Regions from separate parts of the Homo sapiens genome. Here region 2 is linked to region 1. The links come from fine-mapping of genetic effects on gene expression. A gene starts in region 1. The other region holds a variant in brackets. All regions are shown on one strand. Distances are between the middles of the regions. Region 1 holds the start of HYLS1 (HYLS1 centriolar and ciliogenesis associated). Region 2 has its middle 18 kb from the start of PATE3.

Region 1 (11,998 bases):
CATGAGTTCTAGCAACTAACTATCTCTATCCCCTTCTTGAAATCTCTGGCTATTATCCTCCTAGCCTAAACCACCACAGTCTTCCACCTGGAATAATCCAACTATCTCCCACTTGGACTTCACATACAATCTTCTCCTCTTCAAATCCATTCTCCTCAGTGCTGCCAACAGATAATTTCAAATGCAAAACTGAATATGTAGCCCTTATCTGACTAATTAGCCATGCCCCAACCCTGCTTAAAACACTTCAGTTTCTATAGCTCTTATCAAATCTCTTGCCTTGGCCTACAGGACCTGCATGATTTGACCCCTGCCTATCTCTCAGTCTCATCTCTACCATTATTTTCTTTGCTGGTCTTTCTGTTTCTTGACTCTTCCATTCTTATAGACCTTTGAGTATGCTTTTCCCACTACCTAGCAAACTCCTTTCACCCTCTTCACTTCCCTCCACGTCCTTTCACCTACTTATCCTTCAATTCTTGGTTCAGTGACACTATGCCAAATCTCCCTATTATTAAATGTTCTCATTGAACCATTTGCCTTTCCTTAGCATTGAACACAACTGTAATTTTATAATACAGTTGCCTCTTGAACAACACAAGTTTGAACTTCACAGGTTCACTTATACGTGAATTTTTTTCAACAAAAGGCAATGGAAAATGCAGTATTTGAGAGATATGAAACCTGGGTATACAGAGGGCCAACCTTTTCATATAAGTGGGTTCTGTAGGTCTAACTTTAGGACTTAAGTATGCATGGATTTTTGGTATATGCAGGGGCCCTGAAACCAATACCCAGATTATACTGAGGGACAACTGTAATTTGTGATTGTTTCATCAATGTCAATTTCTCCTATCAGACCAAAAGCTCCATAAGGGCAGAAATTGTGTCTTTTTATTCACTATCAAATCACGAAGACATAGCACAGCACTTACAACAGGTGTTCATTAAATATTTGCAGAATTGATTATCAAATACTTTTTTAAATTTTTTATTTATTATTTTATTTATTTATTTTTTTTTGGAGACAGAGTCTTGCTCTGTCGCCCAGGCTGGACCGCAGTGGCGCCATCTCCTCGGCTCACTGCAAGCTCCACCTCCCAGGTTCACGCCATTCTACTGCCTCAGCCTCCCGAGTAGGTGGGACTACAGGTGCTGGCCACCATGCCTGGCTAATTTTTTGTAGTTTTAGTAGAGACGGGGTTTCACCGTGTTAGCCAGGATGGTCTCGATCTCCTGACCTCATGATCCGCCCACCTCAGCCTTCCAAAGTGCTGGGATTACAGGCGTGAGCCAATGCGCCCCGCCTTTTTATCAAATACTTTTAAGAAGTAAAAAAGAATGAGGGCTGAGCAAGACGATTGGAGCTGACTACCAAGATCACTGGTGACCTTTGAAAGTACAGTTTGAATATACTGATGAGGGTAGAATCCAGAATGCAGGGACTTAAGGAGCAACTGAGCAAACAAAATAGGGAAGAGAGAATGGACAAAAAGGCTGACAGAAGGGAGCAGCAGTCTCAAGGGAAAGCTGGTTATTTTCATTTTGTTATTCTTTATGCCATTATTGTTCTGCCTCCAATACTGAGAAGACTTAAACAGAGAAGAATTGAAAATATTAGCGACAGGATGTAATTAGTCAGACAAGGGAGGACTATAGTTGAAAAGTTTGTCTGAAAATGTCAACAAAGAGGTGAGGTAAGCAAAGATATCATAAAGGAGTGGTTAACTTGGCCGGGCGTGGTGGCTCACGCCTGTAATCCTCACATTTTGGGAGGGAGGCCAAGGCGGGCAGATCACCTGAGGTTAGGAGTTCAAGATCAGCCTGGCCAACATGGCGAAACCCTGTCTCTATTAAAAATACCAAAATTAGCTGGGCATGGTGGCACGCGCCTGTAATACCAGCTACTCAGGAGGCTGAGGCAGGAGAGTCACTTGAACCCGGGAGGCGGAGGCTGCAGTGAGTCGAGATCGTGCCACTGCACTCCAGCCTGGGCGACAAGAGCGAGACTCTGTCTCAAAAAAAAAAGAGTGGTTAACAAGCATGATGATACAACCAGTTGAAAGCAATATTTGAGTTCATAAAGAAGTTGATGAGTTGATAAACCAACAACACCTAATTGGGGAAAGCATAAGGAAGAGAGCTGTGTTGCAATCAAAAGGTAAGGAAGCCATATTCAACTACACTGCTTAGATGTAATCAGCAAAATCCAGATTGTGGGAGATTGTACAGGGCCAATAACCTGGTTCCTTCAACAAATAAATTGCAAGGAAAAAAATGAGGGAGAAATTTAAAGAATAAAAGAAACTTAAAGAACATATGGATTTGACATATCATGTGGATTTGACTGGATCCTGACCCAGTTAAGCAAACTTTAAAAAAAGAAAGACAAGTAGAAAATTGAACTCTGGATATCTGATGATAGTAAGAAAATATATTAACTACTTTAGGTGTGATAATAGTATTATGTTGGCCGGGCGCGGTGGCGGGTGCCTGTAGTCCCAGCACTTTGGGAGGCCGAGGTGGGCGGGTCACAAGGTCAGGAGATCGAGACCATCCTGGCTAACATGGTGAAACCCTGTCTCTACTAAAAATACAAAAAATTAGCCGGGTGCGGTGGCGGGTGCCTGTAGTCCCAGCTACTCCGGAGGCTGAGGCAGGAGAATAGCATGAACCCGGGAGGTGGAGCTTGCAGTGAGCTGAGATAGCGCCACTGCAGTCCGGCCTGGGTGAAAGAGTGAGACTCCGTCTCAAAAACAAACAAACAAACAAAAATAGTATTATGTTATGCTTTTAAAAGGTCCTTTAATTTTTCAGAGATCATACTGAAATATTTAGATTTCAGATACTCAGTATTTGCTTCAAAATAATACAAGACAAGGTATGTGGTGATATAGAAGCAACAAGACTGGTCATAAGTTAATCATTGCTGAATCTGGTATTGAGTTCACTGGGCTTCATTATGTATGGTTTTTTAACATTTGTTTGAAATTTTCCATAACAAATTTTTAAGATGAGATTTGGTTTGCAGAGTAGGATTTTTCTCTATATACTGTATTTTAAGTGGTCATGGTTAAAGTTTCTTGTTTAAGGTTTGACCGGGGTTCAGTAGATTTCTGGGAACCACAAGCATTATTAAATCAGATCTAAGAAAAATTGGAGGACTAAGCAATCCACAAAAAAACCAGGGTTGGGTAGAACACAAGATACCACTTGCAATATGAAATATTCAGGAGTAGATCCTTCAAGCTGCTATGTATTAAACGTTTTCAAAGATCAAAATTTAATAAAAAGGATAACAGAAACTAATTGGGGCTGCACACAGTGGCTCACGCTGGAAATCCCAGCACTTTGGGAGGTGGAGGCTGGCGGATCGCTTGAGGTCAGAGTTCAAGACTAGCCTGGCCAATATGATGAAACCCTGTCTCTACTAAAAATACAAAAATTAGCTGGGTGTGGTGGCACACGCCTGTAGTCCCAGCTACTCAGGAGACTGAGGCATGAAAATCATTTGAACCTGGGAGGTGGAGGTTGCAGTGAGCCAAGATCGTGCCACTGCACCCCAGCCTGGGCTACAGAGAGAGACTCTGTCTCAAAAAAAATTAAAAAAAAAAGAAAAAGAAACGAACTGGGGGATCCATAAGGAGAATGCTGATGTTCAAAGCTGGAAGAAAAATGATTCCATCTACTCTTTGGTTTCTAAGACAGATTGGAGATTCAAAGCCAAAGAAAAAGTCATGCTGGCATAAGATAAAACCTGAGCATATTAAATTTGCTCCTATGGAAAGAAAAGAATATATGCACTAAAACAAAGGTCCCCAACCCCCAGGCCACGGACAGGCACCTAGGAACCAGGCCGCAAGGCAGGGGGTAAGCCGTAGGAGCTTCATCTGTTTCTACAGCCACTCCCCATCTGGCATTACTGCCTGAGCTCTGCCTTCCGTCGCATGAACAGGGGTGTTAGAGTCTCACAAGAGCGTGAACCCTATTGTGAACTGCGCAAGCCAGGGATCTAGGTTGCATGCTCCTTATGAGAATCTAATGCCTGATGATCTGTCACTGTCTCCCATCACCCCCAGATGGGACCATCTAGTTGCAGAAAAACAAGCTCAGGGCTCCCACTGATTCTACATTACAGTGAGTTGCATAATTATTTCATTATATGTTACAATATAATAATAGAAATAAAGTGCACAATAAATGTAATGCGCTTGAATCATCCCAAAACCATACCCCCTCTCTGAGCCATGGAAAAATTGTCTTCCATGAAACCTGTCTCTAGTGCCAAAAAGGTTGGGACCGCTGCACTAAAGGAGTGTTATGATATTGCAGATGTAGGGGCAGTCACTCAAATCTCCACAACCTACTTCTGTCATCTTCCCTCCTTTGTTCTTTCCATTTTCTTCCTCCCACAAATTCAAAGTGCCTTAGAGGTAGCACAAAGGCCCTGAGGCAAAGAGGGAGAGTAAGAGATAATACGAAGTGTTTGGAGGAAAAGGATTAAACATTTCTCCCCTCCCACTGAATCCTGGATTTAAGAAATGGTGTAAGATGAACTTGACAACTAGCACCTATTTGTTTAAGGTGGAAAATGCAATGCTCAGGACTCAAGACCAGTTGAGATAGGTTTGCTTGGTATTGACTAGGATATTGAACCCTGAGGGCCTCTCCTCTTGCTTTTACAGATCTCATCCTCAGCAATCCCCAAGCACTAGATTTTTTTTTTTTTTTTTTTTTTTTTTTTTACAGGTACAGATGCAAAAAGAGTTAAAACATCGGGTTTAAAAAAAAAATTAGTGGCTGGGCACAGAGGCTCACAACTGTAATCCCAGAGCTTTGGGAGGCCGAGGGGGTAGAATCACCTGACTAACATGGTGAAACCCCATCTCTACTAAAAATACAAAATTAGCCGGGCATGGTGGTGCTCGCCCGTAATCCCAGCTGCTCGGGAGGCTGAGGCAGGAGAATCGCTTGAACCTGGGAGGCAGAGGTTACAGAGAGCTGAGATCGCGCCACTACTCTCCAGCCTGGGCAACTGGGCAACAAGAGGGAAACTCCGTCTCAAAAAAAAAAAAAAAAAAAAGTTGAGAGTAACACCATGTGAAGGAGACAGGCACATTCCAAAAGAAAACAAGTGCATGTCGGAGCAAGGCAGTCGGTGGCTGGAGCACAGTTAGAGTAACGTGGGAGGAGCTGTGGAGACGCAGCCACGGGTCACGCCAGGGCCCTGCACACCATGCAGAGGAAAGGAAGAGCTCAGTGCGCCAGGGTTTCATACAGCCGCTCTCTCAGGCCCCAAGGAAACGTCTAGAGCGCACAGGCGGACTCACCCCAGACTGTTCGAACCGTCCCTGAGCGCCCGCCCTCGTCTCCCGGCACCACTGGCCCCGCAGCAGCCAGTTGAGAAGGGCGGAGGCTGATTCCAATGAAGTGGCAGACCGTTAGGCGGCCTCTCCAAAAAGCCAGCTATGTCGCCGTTAGCCAAGGTTTGAGGGTCTTCTCCTTCTCTTCGAGGGCCCAACCTCCCCTCCAGATTTAGTACACCAGAGGCGTCGCAGCAACGGCTGCTGCCTGCGCGCCTCAGCTAGGCGGGCTCGGATATTTTTAAGGCCACATTGGAAATCCCGGGCATGCTCCCGCCGGCGGAGAAGGCCCAGACAAAATGTGCGCCAATCAGGATACAGACTTGGAGGACGTTTACCCTCAGGACCAATAAGAGGGAGGGCGGACCGGGCCAAGGGTGCCGGTTCGCTCTCCGGATTTAAACCTCAGCGGTCGGCGGTTAACCGCAGGCTCGGCGCGTGGGCCGGCAGTGCGCCTGCGCAAGTTACGCGAAAGCTAACAGAATCTGCGGTGCTCTGCTGGCGACTGGCAGGACGCGGTGCAGAGAGCGGACTTCCGCGACGCGGGTAAGCCGGGCGAAGGCCGGAAGCGGAGGGACGCGGGGACCTGGTGGCTGCCGGCCCACTGCGGCGGGAGCCCTCGCTCCTTTTCCCACCGTCGGGACGGTGCAGAGTGGCAGCTTCCCTCCGTGGATTCCAGGTCCTGCCTGGCGAGCCGTCCCCAACGTCTGCGTTCCTGAGGGAGGCGGCCGGGGCAGCGTGAGCTACAGGCGATGTGCGCGGCGGGCCGCAGCCCCTGGAGGTCACGGTGTGCGCTGGCCGCCGCCGCGGTCTTTGCCCCGGTGGCCTTTCTGAGCTCCTGGGCCGCGCCCCTGGGACCAGGCGGAGGCCGGGGACGGCCCCAGGGCTGGAGGGGAGTCCCGAAGGCCGCTAGCGACCTGGGTCCAAGCCACGCCCACGGCCAGGCGGGGCGACTGCGAGCTTTGCCGTTGAAAGGCGGAGCGTGTCTTGTCGCCTTCTAGCTGCACCTTTTGTGGACTGCAGCATGGAACCGTCCAAGGTGTTTGTCCACCCCGAAATGGAAATAAATCTTTTTTATTCTAAACAGTATACAATCTCACTAAGCAGGCAAAGAAAAACATTAAGATATCTTTTTAGATTGGTAAGATTTTTCAGTACCCCATGCTGCTGAGAGAGTGAAGAAATGAAAGCAAGCACCTTTATGGCCTGTGTGCTGGGGATAATCTGTTTTTCTAGAGGGCAGTTTGGCATTATAAATCAGAATTCAGGCCGGGCGCGGTGGCTCACGCCTGTTACCCCAGCACTTTGGGAGGCCGAGGTGGGCGGATCACGTGAGGTCAGGAGTTCGAGACCAGCCCGACCAATACGGTGAAACCCCGTCTCTACTAAAAATACAAAAATTGGCCGGGCTTGGTGGCGGGCGCCTGTAGTCCCAGCTCCTCGGGAGGCCGAGACAGGAGAATCTCTTGAACCCGGGAGGGAGAGGTTGCAGTGAGCCGAGATCGCGCCACTGCACTCCAGCCTGGGCGACCGAGCAAGACTCTTGTCTCAAAAAAAAAAAAAAAAAAGAGAAAAGAAAAACATAAATCAGAATTCAAGTAGTACCATAACTTCTAAGTCATAATCCAATTCCAGGAGTTTATTCCAAGGACATAAATCGGACAAGAATGCAAACATAGTATGTACATGTTTTTAGCAATCCGAGCAACATTTAGTACGTGTAAAGAAGAAAGAAAATACTCGAAATTTCATCAGTCACAGATAACCATCAAACACTGTTCACATTTAGGTTTACTTCAGATATATTCATAATATATACCTTATATTTATGTGATTTCCTTATAAAATGTGTTTTAAATAATTGCATGTTACAAATATAATAAAGTATGTTAATTTAAAAGAACGTCAGTTAAGCAGATTATACATTATTGAGTCAGTAATAAATTGGGAACACATTTCTCTGTCAGTGTCGATACGCATTACCATTTTTAATGGATGCGTGGCGTTTGTTGCTATGGCTGTATTGTATCATATATTATTTAACCAGTCCCCTACTAATGTACATTTGTTTCCAGTCTCTTCATAATCATAAAATGGTATGGTAGTGGTCACTTGTATGTATACATGTTTGCATTCTTGTCCAATTTATGTCCTTGGAATAAATTCCTGGAAGTGGATTATGACTTAGAAGTTGTGGTACAGTTTAAATTCTGATTCAAAATGCCAAACTGGGCCGGGCGCGGTGGCTCACACCTGTAATCCCAAGCACTTTGGGAGGCGGAGGCGGGCGGATCACTTGAGATTGGGAGTTTGAAACCAGCCTGGCCAACATGGTGAAACCAAGTCTCTACTAAAAATAGAAGAAAAATTAGCCGGGCGTGGTGGCAGGTGCCTGTGATCCCAGCTACTCGGGAGGCTGAGGCAGGAGAATCGCTTGAACCTGAGAGGCAGAGGTTGCGGTGAGCCGAGATCAGGCCACCGCAACTCCAGCCTGGGCGACAGAGAGAGACTCGTCTCAAAAAACAACAACAATAATAATAATGCCAAACTGCCCTCTGGAAAAACGGATTATCCCCAACACACAGGGCATAATAAGGATGCTTGTTTTTATTTCTTCACACACTTGCCAGCACCGGGTACTGAAAAAATCTTATCAATCTGAAATGATGTCTTAATGCTTTTATACACATTACTGAAATTGAACATGTTTTCTGTTTATTAATTTTTGTTGCTGTTTAGAAACAGACGTTGGCTTTGTGCCCAGGCTGGAGTGCAGTGGCCAGATCATAGCTCAGTGCAGCCTCAAACTCCAGGGTTCAAGCGGTCCTCTTGCTTCAGCCCCCATAGTACTGAGACTACAGGTTTATGCCACCACGCCTAGCTAATCTTTTTTCTTTTTTTTTGAGAGATGGGGGTCTTGCTGTGTTGCACAGGCTGGTCTTGAACTCCTTCACAGCCTCAAGCGATCCTCCCACCTCAGCCTCCAAAGTGCTGGAATTACAGGCATGAGCCACTGCGCCCAGCTGTTTGTTAGTTATTATTCGTTTGGTACGGCATCTGTCTTTTCTCCCCTATCTTACTGATAATGTGTACCCTTTAATAGCTTTCTAAGAGGAATTCAAATTACTGATTTTTAAACGTGTTACAAGTATTTCTCCCAGTTTGTTGTCTCTTTTGCCTTCATTATGGTATTGTTTGCCTTTGTGGTAGGATGTTTTGTTTTGTTTTAATACTGTGATTCTTTAAGCTGCTTGCTTACCTCCCCAGAGGTGGAGAAATTTGTTATAACTCTGCAATAGCCTCCCTATAGCAGTCTACTGACCCAGTCCCTTTATCTCATTTTGAAGTCTTTGCCCCTTCTACCCTTGAAATCCTTTTGATTGTAACTAGCTAACCCTAGGATGCTGAGTCACTAAGACTTTTGAAGAGAAGATATGGTTAGGTATTTCGGTCAATGTTGTCTGTGTTTACAGAATACAAGTTGCTCTAGCTTTTATGTGAAAGTTTCCCTCTAAAGAGAAAGGATTGTTCGATCTTTTATATTAGAAAGAGAAGGAACTGACAGTTACCTATGGACCTTATTAAAGTTTCTATTTTATTTATTGTTTGCAAACATCATCTTCATATGTTCAAGGAAAAAAATAGGAGTGTGACACAGTTGAAATGCAGAGGAAATAACACATTAATCACTGTATAGTAGGACACATGCCATTAAAAAAAAAAACTAACTCTTGGCTTTACTGCCAAAAATCCTCCTAGCCCAGAGTCTCACAAATCGTTATTTATGTATAAATATATAAAAAGTGTCATTTAAATTTCACAACCTAAATAGTTCCTTTATTCCAACATTTATTTAGTCCTTACCATGGGCCAGAGACTTCGGATTTGTACAAATGCTGTCTAAGAGAGCAAGTACTTTTGCAAAGTTGCATTTGGGGGCTTCCCATTTGTTCCACCTGTGATGACTGTCTTGACTTTTTCTATGGCAACTACCAAAAATGTAGTCACTAAATTCTTACTCTTCTAGATTGGATAATATAATCTAGCCAGACTTGAAGGGATTTTACTTAAGATCTAAGACCCTGATCTTCTGATTCCTTTGCTTCTACACAGTATCCTAACAATGACTTATGGTTAGTGCATTTTGTTCCATGTATCACTGCTTCAGAGTTAATTTTTTTAAACTCTATTCTTCTTTTCTAGGTTTTTTTTTTACTTGAATGTAAATACCAATCAAGATACATTGAAATAAGGTAAGAAATTGAAAAAAAAAAAAAAAAACCTTGGTTTGCACTTACATATTTAAGTTATTCCACCATGATCATTGATTACATGAAAAAGAGGATCTTTAAATCAAAAGTAAAGGCCAAAGTAATTATATTTTAAGAATACTCAGGACATAATGAAGTGTTGATAGACTGGGTCCCAAAAAGCAGTGATAATGATTCAAATCCAGAAGACTTGGATCATACAATGGGCAATTTTGAATAAATCTTAAGTAATTTGTACCACTAATTCCCCATCTCTAAAATGGGGTATTTTCTGGTTCCCTGTCTGCTAGGATATAACAGCTATTATAATGTACTTTTTAGTACTACAGGGTCACCTCACCTTTTGTATGCTATTTTACTTCCTAAATCTGGAACTGTTTCAGTGAAGTCTATTTCTGTGGTCCACCCCCCTTCTGTAGCAATTATGCAGCATTAGTTTATGATTTATATATTAGTATTGTTTTTAATTGTCCCATGTGTTATTTGCACTAGCAGCTTGAGGATAGAAAACATATTTGTATACCTGAAGTCTTGAACATGGGTAGGAAAAAACTAATTATTGGTTGGTAAGTAAAACTTTGGATCTCATAAACATGGTAGAATTGTAAATTAGAGGATCAGGGTCTTAGATCTTAAGTAAAATCTTTCAAGGTTGACTAGATTATACTATCCAATCTAGAAGAGTAAGAATTTAGTGACTACATAAGTCAAGACAGTCATCATAGGTAAAATAAACAAGAAGCCTTCAAATGTAAGTTTGCAAAATTACTCATTCTCTGAGGTGGCATTTGTAAAAATTCCAAATGTGGTGAACACTCACTTTAGTAATGAAAATTATTATTGAGGAAGAAGGTCTGAGTTCAAACTTTGATGTTTATTATTTTTATGGTTGCAAAGGATAATGTATTTAAGACAACTCTGAGTTCTTTTGAATAAATACTGGTGTTCACAAGTAATATTTTGAGGATCACTTATTAACTTTGAGAACAAGCAAAGCTCTATCTCATTTTTCCTCTCTCAGTATGTGGTACTACCAGCCACTCATTTTGCTCACATCTGAAACTTAGGAGTTATCTAGAAAGCCTCCCTAGTTTTGAACAGCATATTTATTCACTGAGTCCTGTTGTTTCTACTTTCTTAATCTTAAATTCATCTACTTCTGTCCATTTGCCTCACTAAAAATCTCTTCTAGGCCATTTTCATCATCTATTGCCTCCATTACTCCAGCAGCCCCCTAATTGGTCACAGTGCCTCCAATCTTGCCCTCTTCCCATCCACAGAATACTCAGAGCAATATTTTTGCCACACAATTCTATCGGGCATGTAAATTTTTTCAGTGGCCCTGCAAAATCTAAGCTTTTTAAGGAATGTCTTTGCTCTACAAATGTGACCTGTGCTTACCTTTTTAAACTATGTTCTTGTCACTCTCAAGCCGTATTAAAGAATTGAGCTGCCTGAATGCATATGTTGTCATCTCTAACCCTTTATACAAACTGGATCTTCTGACTTAGACACATTTAAAGTGGTTCTTTATCCTCATTTTAACTGGCTCCCACTTGTTCTGCAAGATCTAGCTTCAATATCTCCTCTATAAGAACTTGCCTATAGTCACTAGCCCAAGGCTTGGCAAACACCATGGCCCATGAACTAAGAGTGCTTTTTAGATTTGTAAAGGATTGTAAAAACATGTATGCAATAGAGGCCATTTGTTGTTGACACAGCCTAAAACATTTACTCATTAATCCTTCACAGAAAACATTTACCAACCTCTGCACTAGATTTATATGCTTTGTAAGATAAGGTACTGTGCTTTATTCCAGGTAGGTAACTTTGTGCCTGGCATTAAACCAATTTATCCAATCTTTAATTAAATGAATTTAATATTCTTAAATTCTGTCTTAGAAAATAAGACACTCAGATGCAGCACTTTATGAAAATTCAGATGAGTAGTGAATATCTTATCTGCTTTGGAGAGAAAAACACAACAAATCAGATACTTGCAGGATTAGGCTTTAATGAATTTGAATACAAGGCACAGGTTTCCAGGTGTATGTAAATACATCTCCATTTTACGTTCTTTAATCGCTTAATCCTTTTGGACCGGGATAAGAGAATATTTGAAATTTCTTATTAAAGCAATAACTTCCTTAATAGGGCTTTAGTCTTTTTGCTTTTTTTTTTCTTTTAAGAGCTGATCATCTGAATTCCTAGTACTTGCAAGTAAATTTTTTTTTTTTTCCTTTTCTGTCCACCTACCATTAGGTGGTTCCTAGATCCTGGCAAATTGTCTATGGTTAAATGATGCTTTTAATTTCTGTGTCAACACAGACCCTCTTCGTTGGTGTCTCCAAATTAGTATTCTCT
Region 2 (11,998 bases), 82 kb before region 1:
AAAAATGTTTTATGGCTTGTTTTGGAACCTAACATATGATGAGAATGATCCATGTGCTGAGAAGATCAATGTGTATTCTGCAACTCTTGGATGAAGTGTTCTGTTAATATTTACTAGATTCGTTGGTCTGTAGTGCATATTAAGTCTTATGTTTCTTTGTTGATTTTCTATCTGGGAGATCTGTCCAGTGCTGAAAGTGGGGTGTTAAAGTCTGCAGTTACTATTGTATTGAAGTCTATCTCTCTTTTTAACTCTAATAATATTTCCTTTATATATCTGAGTGCTCCAGTGTTCGGTGTATACATATTTAAAATTATTATAGCCTCTTGCAGACTTGATCTCTTTATCATTATGTAGTGATATAATAATATCACTTCTTCTTTGCCTCTTCTAGTTTTTGTCTTGAAATCTATCTTGTCTTATATAAGTACAGCAACTCCTGCTTTTTTTTGGTTTTCATTGGCATGGAATATCTTTTTTCATCTCTTCATTTTCAGTCTATGTGTGTCTCTGTAGGTGAAGTATGTTTCTTGCAGGCAACAGATCAATGAGTCTTGTATTTTCATCCACTCAGCCAGTCTATGTCTTTTGATCAGAGAGTTTAGTCCATTTACATTCAATGTTATTACTGATAAGTAAGGACTTATTCCTGCCATTTTGTTATTTTTTTTCTGGCTTTTTTTTGGTCTTCTCTTTATTCTTTATTTCCTTTCTGTCTTCCTCTAGTGAAGGTGACTTTCTCTGGTGATATGATTTAGTTTCTTTCTTGCTTTTTATATATTTTAGTTTCTATTTTGCTACACCTTTTCTTCTTTCTGATTTTTATTTTGTGTTTTTTTTGTCTACTATTTTAAGTTGGGTGTATTTGTTATTTCTTTTTTCTTTTTACGTATATTTAATACTATGAATTTTTCTCTGAAAAATGCCTTAGCTATATTTTATAATTTCTGATATTTTATGTTTCCCTATACTTGCTATTAAAAAATTCTGCATTTTTGTCTTAAATTTTTCTGTTGATGTAAGAGTTGCTAAATAGTATGTTGCTACATTTCCAGCTTGCAGTGCTTTTTTGGATTGGTTTTCAGCATCTAGTTTATTGCACTGTAGTAAGTGAATATTGCTTATGTTAATTCTATTTTTGGAAGTTATCAAGTATTTGTTTGAGGCATTGCAAAGGTTTCTCAAGTTCAGATATTTGAAAGAGCCACCAGACTTCATAGAACACACTTATTCTCTTTGGAACATATAAATTCATACAGCATACTTAATAAGGTCTTTATTTAAAGATAAAAGACTGCAGCAAATGAAACAGTGCAGACAAATACTGGGAGATCTGAGAGAAATCCCATGCACAAATTCTGCAGTCCTTTTTTTGCACAGAGACTGCACTCTGTCTTTGGACTGTGCAATCACAATCTGTGTGGGGAATCTTGGCTTCAGGAAACATCAAAGAGTTACAACATTTCAGTCAGACAAGACGAATAAATTCCAGAGATCTATTGTACAGCATAGTAACTATTGCTAATGACAATGTAGTTTATACTTACGAACTGCTAAAAGTAGACCTTAAATGTTCTAATGACAAAACATAACAAGTATATGAGGCAGATATGTTAATTTGATTTAACCATTTCACAATTTATATATATATCCAAATATCATATTGTACTATCTTCCTATCTTTCTTCATGATGTGATGATTTTTTGTAGTGATATGCCTTGATCCCTTTATCTTTGTCTCTGTGTGTGTGTGTGTGTGTATCTACTACAGACTTTTTCTTCCTGGTTACCACAAGGCTTACATAAAACATATTATCATTAGAACCGCCTATTTTAATCAGATGAAATCTGAACTAGCTGCATACAAAAACTCTACACTTTACCTTCTTCTTCCCTCACATTATATTTTATTGATGCACAATTTACATCTTTTATATATTGTTTACTAATTAACAAATTATTGTACTTACAGTTGTTTTTAATGTCATTGTCTTTTAACTTTTTACTAGAGTTAAAACTGATTTATGCACTACCAATACAGTATTAAAGTATTCTGAATTTGACTATATTCTTACTTTTATAGTGAGATTTATACTCTCATATGTTTTTATGATGTTAGAATCCTTCTCTTTCAATTTAAGGCATTCTCTTTAGCACTTTTTCTAGGGCAGGTCTACTGGTGATAAACTCCCACAGCTTCTGTTTCTGGGAAAGTCTTTATCTCCCCTTCATTTCTGAAGGACAGTTTTGCTGAGTATAGTATCTTTGGTTGACAAGTATTTTTTTCTTTCAGCATTTTAAATATATCATCCCACTCTCTCCTGGCCTGCAAGTTTTCCACTGAGACTATCACTAATAGTCTTACAAAGGATCCCTTCTATATGATGAGTTTATTTTCTCCAAATGCTTTCAAAATTTTCTGTCTTTTACTTGAGAATTTGATTACAATGTGGTCATAGAAGGTTTTTTGTATTTAAACCTTTGTTCTTTGGGATTTGTGGATCTGATGTTTACTTCTCCAGATTTGTGAAGCTTTCTATCATTATTTCTTTAAAAAAAAAAAAAAGGCTTTCCATCTTTTTCTCGTGCTCTGCTTTCTAGGACTCCCATAACATGTGAATTAATTTCCTTGCCAGTGTCCTATATGTTCTGTAGGCTTTCTGCATTCTTTTTAATTCCTTTTTCTTTTTGTTTTTCTGATTAGGTAATTTCAAATGACCTGTCTTCAAGATTACCAATTATTTATTCAGCTTGATTGAGTCTGCTATTGAAGCTCTCAATTCAACTTTTTATTTCAGTCATTGTATTCTTCAGTTCTAGAATTTGTGTTTGGTTCTTTTTAAAGGTTTTTATCTCAGTTGAAATTCTCATCTTGTTCATGTATTGGGTTTTCCTGATTTTGTTTAGTTCTGTGTTCTCTTGTAACTCAGTTTTTTAAAGATAATGATTTTAAATTATTTTTCAGACAGTTCATAGATCTCCATTACTTTAGGGTCATATACTGACACTTCTTTTTTTCCCTTTGCTGGTGTTATTATTATCTTTCATGATTCTTGTGGCCTTATGTTGGTGTTTGTACATTTGAAGAACTATGCACTTCTTCCAGTCTTTACAGACTGGCTTTGGCCAGTAAAGCCCTTTACCAGTTAACACATATAAGGATTCTCGGTATGCTGCCTGGCAGGGTCTATGAGCAGGCTTATTACATGAGTCCTCAGGAGAGCTGGCTGGTGCCTAGGTTAGCAAGTGGAAGATCTTGGTGCCGGGTTGGTGCCTGGGTTATCAAGTGGAAGATCTTAGTGCCTGAGTCCAAGAGGGCTGGCCTAACAATGAGGTGAGCCAGGTGCCTGGGTCCACAGGAATTGGCCTTGTCCTGAGTCTGCTGGCCTTATGCCAGGGTCCACTGGGGCATGCCCGGTGCCTGGGTCTACAAGCATGGGACTGGAGCCTAGGTTCATGGAGGCCATTCTAGCACTGGAGTGGGCAATAAGCCTAAGCCCATAGTGGTGGATCTAGGTTCTGATCTGAAGGTATCATGTTGAAATCTGGTCTGGAAGGGTGATCCTGGAGACTAGGTTCATGTGGACCAGTCCAGTGCTGAGGTCTCAAGTGGCCTTATACCCTGGATCCACTGAAGCAGGCCTGGAACTTGGTGCCACTGAAAGCTAGGGCTATAGGAGTCAGCCTGGCATTGGAGTGGACCTGGAGCCTGAGCCTGTGGGAGCTTGCATAGAGCCTGAGTCCACAGGGGCTAATATGGCATTGGGGCAAACCTGGAGCATGGGGTTGCAGGTGGTAGCCTGGAGTCTGGGTCTGCAGGGAGTAGCCTGAGTCCTGAGGCCACAAGGGAAAGTCTATAGTCTGGATGTTGGGGGACAGACTGATGGTTGGCTCTGTGGGTGCAAACCTGGAGCATAGGTCCATGGGGGCTGGCCCAGAGCCTGAAGCCATGGAGGAGAGCCTGATACTGGGGTTGACGGGGGTAGGGGGAGTGGCTCATACAAGGTCTGCGGTGACACTGGGTGTTTATTTCACTCTCTTTACCCCATGCAGAGGGTATCTTTCTCCATGTTGTACTGCCTGGGCTTGGGGGAGGGGTGATATGGGTAATGCGAGACTATTCTTCCTACTCTCTTCAATCCATCTTTTCTTATTTGTGTACTCCACTAAGGTTCTATAATCTCTCACCTGAATTCCTTAGCTCTTGTCAAGGTGTTTTCATGGATGGATAGTTGTTTAAATTGATGCTTTTGCAAGTGGTGATCATTTGAGTGTCCTATATGGTCATCTTGCTAGTCACTTTTCCATTAGGTTCTTTTTAATACATTCTATTTCTCTGTTAAAATTATTTATATTTTCATTTTGCCCATTTTTTTCTCTCATTTAATATATCTTAATAGTTATTTTAAAGTCATCATGTTATAATTTCAACATCTGGTCTGCTTCTATTACCTATTTTTTCCTGCTTCTTCATATGTCACATAAATTCTTATTATATTCCCAACATTGTAGAAAGCATTATCTTCCCCTAGAGAGAGCACACTCCTTTCTTTGTGAAGCAGATACATGGAGGAATTCGTCACCAAGATCACATCAGATTTGAGCAGGGTCAGGACTATTTTGAAGCTTTGGTTGGTTTAAGTTCAAAAAGTCTCTCTGTCTATGGCAAATCTGTTCTTCTATTAACTGTGAAAAGTCTTGGCAGATATCTTTAAAGTTCCTGTTCATCTCTGCTCACCTTAGAAGGGGGTCTTCCTTTCTGGAATTTGAGTTTCTTTTTATTCTGAATCCACACACCTCTCATATCATTTTAAAATATTTGACTATTTATACAAAAAATTAGCTGGGCGTGGTGGCGTGTGTCTGTAATCTCAGTTACTCAGGAGGCTGAGGCAGAAGAATCATTTGAACACAGGAGGCAAAGGTTGCAGTGAGCCGAGATTTTGCCACTGCACTCCAGCCTGGGTGACAGAGCGAGAGTCTGTCTCAAAAACATAATAATAATAAATATTTGACTATTATTTTATCCACCTTTCTGGTTATTTCAAAGGCACGCATTGTTTCCAACAACTCTCCACATTATAACCAAGAGCCAGAAGTCACAGTATTCATTTCTGAAACGTTTTCTACAAGTATTTTCAAACATATCTCTTACAGTGTTTTTTTTTTTGGTTTTCTAGCCATCTCCATTCTAAGCTTTTCTATATATTTTTCTCAAATTGTATTTAACACAGCCAAACTCTAAGCTAAATCATATACTTTAGATTGATTATAGTTTGATTGAAGAGTTACTGTTTCTAATACTACAAAGAATGTCTTTTTTCTGAACTACTTGCTAATGATACAAGTTAATAATACAATGCCTCATTATTTCTGAACTCTTTCCTATGTGTTCCCTAAAAACAGAGATATTTTTTCTTATAACCACAATACAATCATCACAATCACAAAATTAGTATTGACAAATTACTATCATGTAATCCACAGACCCCATCCAAGTTTTATCAATTTCCCAGTAATATTTTTCATAGCAAAATAATTCAATCTAGGATCATGATATTGCATTTATTTGCAATGTCTCTTTAGTCTCCTCTAATCTGGAATAGGTTCACAGTCTTATTTTCATGGCTTTAATACTTTTAAAATTATAAGCTGGTATTTTACATAATTCCCCTCAAACTGGGCCTGCACAACATGTCTGCATGATTACATACAGATAATAGGTCTTTGACAAAAATTTCGCCGAAGTGGTGCTGTGTTCTCAGTGCATTCTATCTAGGGGCACATAATTTTATCTCTTTACTAGTGATGTTAATTAATTACAATTAAAATTATTTATCTTCTGTAAAATTACTCATTTTCCCTTTGTAATTGCTAACTATTTTCTGGTGAGGTTCTCAGACTTTGTGAATGTCCCAGTATCTTTCCATTTTCACCAACAAGTTTTATCACTTACAAGTTTTATCATCTGTTAACACTAATAAGTTAGTGATAATCTTAGCATTTTTGCCTGAATTAATGAATTATTTCTTAGCATTTTTGTCAGATGGTGATTTTCCAATTTCAATACTCCTTCAGTGTTTATTAGATGGAATCTAATTTATTAGTTGGCAATCTACTGTAAGGAAAAGTTTTCTCCTCTCCTTATTTACCTATTTGATTACATAAGTATAATCATTCCTATTTTGTTCAATGAGTCATATTGATCATTATAACATTTATTTTGATGCTCAATTTTGGCCAGTGAGAGTCCCTTTAAGCTTGATTCAATATCCTTTCAGCATTTCCACCATTCTTTGAACACTTCCTTATTTCAGCCCTGGCCTAAATATTCCAGGCTCATTTTGTATTTTCCCTGCAAGGAGCCCTACCTACTTCTTCTTAATGGGAAAGGATATTTAGAAACGAAAATACAGGTGCTAGGTGTGCCCATTGCTATTG[C/T]GGTGTTACTGCTCTATGTCCACTCCATGTTCAAAGCTAGATAATACATGTACATACAGAAACATTATATTCTCGGCCAGGTGCGGTGGCTCATGCCTGTAATCCCAGCACTTTGGGAGGCTGAGGTGGGTGGATCACAAGGTCAGGAGACCGAGACCATCCTGGCTAACACAGTGAAACCACATCTCTACCAAAAATACAAAAAATTAGCCAGGCATGGTGGTGGGCGCCTGTAGTCCCAGCTACTCGGGAGGCTGAGGCAGGAGAATGGCATGAACCTGGGAGGTGGAGCTTGCAGTGAGCCAAGATCGCGCCACTGCACTCCAGCCTGGGCATCTCAAAAAAAAAAACAAAAAAAAAAAAACAAAAAAAGAAACATTATATTCTCTGATAATCTCAGTCTTTATACCAAGCTCAATTTTGTTTCTACTAACAGTTCCTTTCTTCCTAAGGATCAAGCTCTATTTTGTGAAAGGAATTTTAGTGACATATTTCCATATATCTGAGATATCCAAGGGCTTGGGGAACCCTGGTTCCCTGATTTTGTCTATGGCATGTTCCCTTTGCTATCCTAGTGTTACATGTTTTTGTAAAAGGGTTTACAGAGCTTCATAAACTATACTGCTGCCTCCAATATGTCCTAATTGAAAGTTCAGAGTACTATGTTGATAGCTCTAAGCAAAGCCTTTTAAAATCAACCCAAGAATTCTAAGGCAGTCAACTTCAGCCTTCATGACTCACAGCCTCTTTTCAGTTGCTGTTCACAGCAATTGGGAGTTGTTTCCCCTGACTGAGGGCCAGGAGGCAGGGTAACCTGGCATTAAAAACACAATATATAAGCAAATAGTACACTAAAAGCCCAGACTAATATATTTCATGTGACACAACTGCACTTGTATCCATAAATCCACACACACACACACACACACACAGATTTTTGCGATGGTGTCTCACTGTCACCCAGGCTGGAGTACAGTAGTACAATCACAACTCACTGCAGACTCAATCTCCTGGGCTCAAGCTATCCTTCCACCTCAGCCTCTCAAGTAGCTGGGACTACAGTGCATGCCATCATGCCCAGTTAATTTTTGTATTTTTTGTAGGGATGGGGCTTCATCATATTGTTCAGGTTGGTCTTTAACTCCTGAGCTCAAGCAATTCACCCGTCTTGGCCTCCCAAAGTGCTGGGATTACAGGCATGAGCCACCAGGCCCGGCCAAGAGAAAAAAAAATTAAGAAAAGTAAAAATAAAATTTTCAATTAATTATGGATCATTTAAATTATACACAGAGAAGGGCAGAGCAAGATGGTAGAAAAGAAGCCTACAGCATTTGTCCCTCTAGTAGGATCACCAAATTTTAACAACTACGTGCACACAGAAAAGCATCATCACAAGAACAAAAATCAGGTTGTTCGAACAATCACAGTACCTGGTTTTAACTTTATATCACTGAAAGAGGCATTAAAGAGGGTAGAAGAGACAGCCTTGAATTGCTGAAACTACCATTCTCCCATCCTCTGGCAGTAGCCATGTAGCACAGAGACCCTGTGCACTTGGGGGAGTGAGATCGCAGCAACTGGGTGACTTCGCATTGAACTCAGTGCTGTCCTGTCACAGAGGAGAGTAAAGCCATGCTGGGCTTAGCCAGCACTTGTGTACAGAGGGAACAATTTGGACCAGCCATAGCCAGAGGGTAATCAACCATCCCAGAAGCTAGAACTTGAGTTTCTCCGCAAGCCTTGTCACTGCAAGCCAAAGTGCTTTGGGGTCCTAGGCAAAACTGAAAGGCAGTCTAGGGACACAAGGACTGCACTTCCTAGGGAACTCTGGTGCTGGGCTGGGCTCAGAGCCAGTAAATACCATGAATCATTGCATTTTTAGAACCTACTGCCAGCATCTTCATTCTGTCCATTTAAACTAATTAATCAACCCTGCATGAAAGAATCTACTTTCTATTTCTCAAGATGTTAAAGTACAGTATTCATCCAAATATTATAAAATTTGGGAGAAATCTCATCATACATATATTGAAAATATTTTTAAATTTATTTGTAGATTTAAATATTTAATTCTACTTATATAAATACAACATTACACAAACTAATGAGCAGTCATAATCCTGGATATCAATAGGGATGAGACCAATCCTGGGATAATATTACATATGTGTGTATATAATTATAAGCTAAAAAAATACATATCATAGTGTCTGTAGAGTCTAATACATAGGATGGCTAAAATCATTTTTAGAACGTAAAGCAAAAGTCAACCAATAATAATTCTGGGATTAATTATTGTTATTTCATAACATTATTTTTGTTAAGAAAACTACAGTGATGATCTCAAACTCTTATCTCTCCTTAACATTTTTTGTTACAGGGCTGTGCCAATCGATTAAAAACAATCAGCTTTTATCAATGAGTACGTAGAATACGAGGTGATATTTGAATATTTTTGAGGACTGGGCATCCCTCACATGCTGTCTTAATTCATTTTCTATCGCTGCAACAGAACTGGGTAATTTATAGTGAACAGAAATGTATTCAGCTCATGGTTCTGGAGTTACCTTTGTTATTAATAATTTAATTGCACTCTGGTCTGAGAACACATGTCTATGTGATTTGAGGTCTTTGAAATTTATTGAGATTTTCTTTATGTCCCAAAATGTGGTCTGTTTTTGTGAGTATTCAATGTGCACTTAGAAAAAAATATGTTCTACAGTTGCTAGATTCATATTTTAAATAAGTCAGTTTGGTCAACTTTCTAAGATATGGTCTTCAAAGCATCTGTATCCTTACTTTTTTATTGCTTATTTTATCTATTACTGAGAGAGCATGTAAAAATCTTCAAAAGATAAATTGTCTATTTCTCCTTTTAGTTCTGCCAATTTTTGCTTTTTATATTTTGAGGCTATGTTATTAGGTGCATGGAAGTTTAGAACTGTTATATATTTTTGATAAATTGATCTTTTTATCATCATGAATTACCCATATATTCATCTCTGGTAATGCTTTCAGCCTTTAATGTCTACAGTTTTGCTATGAATGTAACTACAAGGTTTTATGATAGTGTTTATATACTGTATTTTTGCAGTCCACTTACATTCAACTTTGGTATCCTTATACTGTGTCTTATGTAAACAGTATATGCTGTTTTTAAAGTTTTAGTCTGTCTCATATTTAAATTGGAATATTTAGCTTATTACTGATATATTCAAGTTTAAATATAACATATTAGTACTTATTATCTATTTATCATACTTATTTGGTGTTTACTGTTCTCTTCCTTCTTGTCTTTTTTTGGATTAAGTATCTTTTTTTTTGTTATCCCAGTATCCCCCTTCTCTTTGCTTTGGAATTATCAAATATTTTACTATTTTTCCAATGGTTACTCTTGTTACTTTTCCAATGGTAACTCTCATATAAGTTAGTACTTTTACTGTATCTTGGATAATAAGAGGACCCCAAAATATCTTAACTCCATTTATTTTTCCAAGTAATATTATATTATTGTCATGTATTTTAATTTTATATACATTTCAAACCCCACAGAACATTATTTTTATGTATTAAAATTCATGCAGATTTTTCTCATATTTTTCTTTAAATTTTTATAGAAATAAACACTGAACCATGCATTCTTAATGAAATGAAATTTAGAGATTATTCATAAATATTTTACTAATTTTTAAAACTTTCTACACAAAGCAATCACCATGTAAGTTTCATCTCTCAGTTGTGCAGTTGTTTTCATTTTCGTATGTCCTAGAAAATGTGAATCTTCTTCATTTGTAGGGGCAAGGCACACAGGATTTTACCTATAACTGGATATCTGCTTCAAAAGTGGTAGTGTTATAATTTCTTTTATCACATCTCTTAAAGCTGTAATTATAACTCCCTTACATCATTTGATTTTTTAATAAAAGGAATATTAAACAGTAAACGTTTCACATGAAGTTTACAGGTATCAAGTATTCTGTTTGCTGTAATAACCTGAACCTTATATTTCTGAGAAAAATACACATAGATCTTGAAGTTATATGCTTGAGATAAATAGTTAAAATTACAATTAGTTATTTCTATTTTTATCAATAAATAGAAAAATTATGATAGTAATATTAAGAAGACTTAATATCTATAAAGGGAAATTTGACCAGGAGTCTCCTCTTATGATGGATTCATAGATGTTTTATGTTTTGGGTTCTTTTTGCTCCTTTGTATATTTCATGTTTTGAAAATAAGGATAGGTTTTTCTTTTCATGCTTCAAAATCTAATAAAAGAATATAAAAAGGCATGGCACTAAACTACATCTAAACAAAGATGGCTTGGTTACTTGCAGTGTCAGAATTAAGTTTTTTTCCGAGGAGAATGTTTAGTGTTATTTCCAGACACAACATTGCTGGGAAATTTTTTATTTATTTGTGGATACATAGCAGATGTATATATTTATGGATACATGAGATGTTTTGATACAGACATGCAATGAGTAATAACCACATCATGAAAACGGAGTATGTATCCCCTCAAGCATTAATCTTTTGTGTTACAAGCAATCCAATTATACTTTTAGTTATTTTTAAATATAAATTTAAATAATTATTGACTATAGTCACTCTGTTGTGCTATCAAACACTACGTCTTATTCATTCTTTCTAACTAGTTTTTATACCCATTAACCATTCCAACCTCCTCCCCAACAACCTATCTTTCCAAGCCTCTGGTAACCATCCTTCTACTCTCTATCTCCATGAGTTCAATTGTTTTGATTTTTAGATCCCACAAATAAGTGAGAACATGTAATGTTTGTCTTTCTGTGCCTGGCTTGTTTCGCTTAACATAATGATCTCCAGTTCTATCCATGTTGTTGCAAATGACAGGATCTCATTTTTTTTATGGATAAATATTACTCCATTGTGTATAAGTATCATATTTTCTTTATTCATTCATCTGTGGATGGACATTTAGGTTGCTTCCAGTGCTTGGCTATTATGAATAGTGCTGCAACAAACATGGGACTGCAGATATCTCTTTAATATACTGATTTCCTTTCTTTTTGGTATACACCCAGCAGTGGGATTCCTGGATCATATGGTAACCGTATTTTTAGTTTTTGAGGAAACTCCAAACTGTTCTTTATAGTGGTTGTAGTAATTTACATTCCCACCAACAGCATATGAGAGTTCCCTTTTCTCCACATCCTTGCCAGCATTTGTTATTGCCTGTCTTTTGCATATAAGCCATTTTAATTGGGGTGACATGATATCTTATTCTAGTTTTGATTTGCATTTCTCTGATGATCAATGATGTTGAGCAACTTTTTATATGCCCGTTTACCATTTCTGTCTTCTTTTGAGAAATGTCTATTCAAATCTTTTGCCCATTTATTGATAGGATTATTAGGATTTTTCCTATATAATTGTTTGAGCTCTTTATATATTCTGGTTATTAATCCTTTGTCAGACGGGTAGTTTACAAATATTTTCTCCCATTCTGTAGTTGTCTTTTCACTTTGGTGACTGTTTCCTTTATTGTCCAGAAGCTTTTTACTTGATGTGA

Evidence for each region. PIP is the estimated chance that this variant, and not a neighbour inherited with it, causes the effect.
Region 2: its variant is fine-mapped to the expression of HYLS1 in whole blood (TOPMed, PIP above 0.99).

Annotation. Positions count from the first base shown.
Region 1 is chr11:125,881,857-125,893,854 of GRCh38, forward strand. It overlaps HYLS1 (HYLS1 centriolar and ciliogenesis associated), which reads left to right and starts at 5,812. Exons shown (of 3, transcript NM_001134793.2): 1 at 5,812-5,909; 2 at 9,567-9,616. PUS3 (pseudouridine synthase 3) reads right to left here. Exons shown (of 4, transcript NM_031307.4): 4 at 11,629-11,998. The coding sequence ends at 11,929. LINC03136 (long intergenic non-protein coding RNA 3136) reads right to left here and starts at 999. Exons shown (of 2, transcript XR_007062935.1): 1 at 1-999. RefSeq lists an enhancer at 5,520-5,569 and silencers at 5,710-5,759, 5,850-5,899, 6,000-6,389.
Region 2 is chr11:125,799,825-125,811,822 of GRCh38, forward strand. No RefSeq gene overlaps it. Among named protein-coding and RNA genes, the nearest start is that of PATE3, 18 kb to the left of the region's middle. RefSeq lists an enhancer at 2,958-3,459. The variant C/T (reference allele first, on the strand shown) is at 6,442.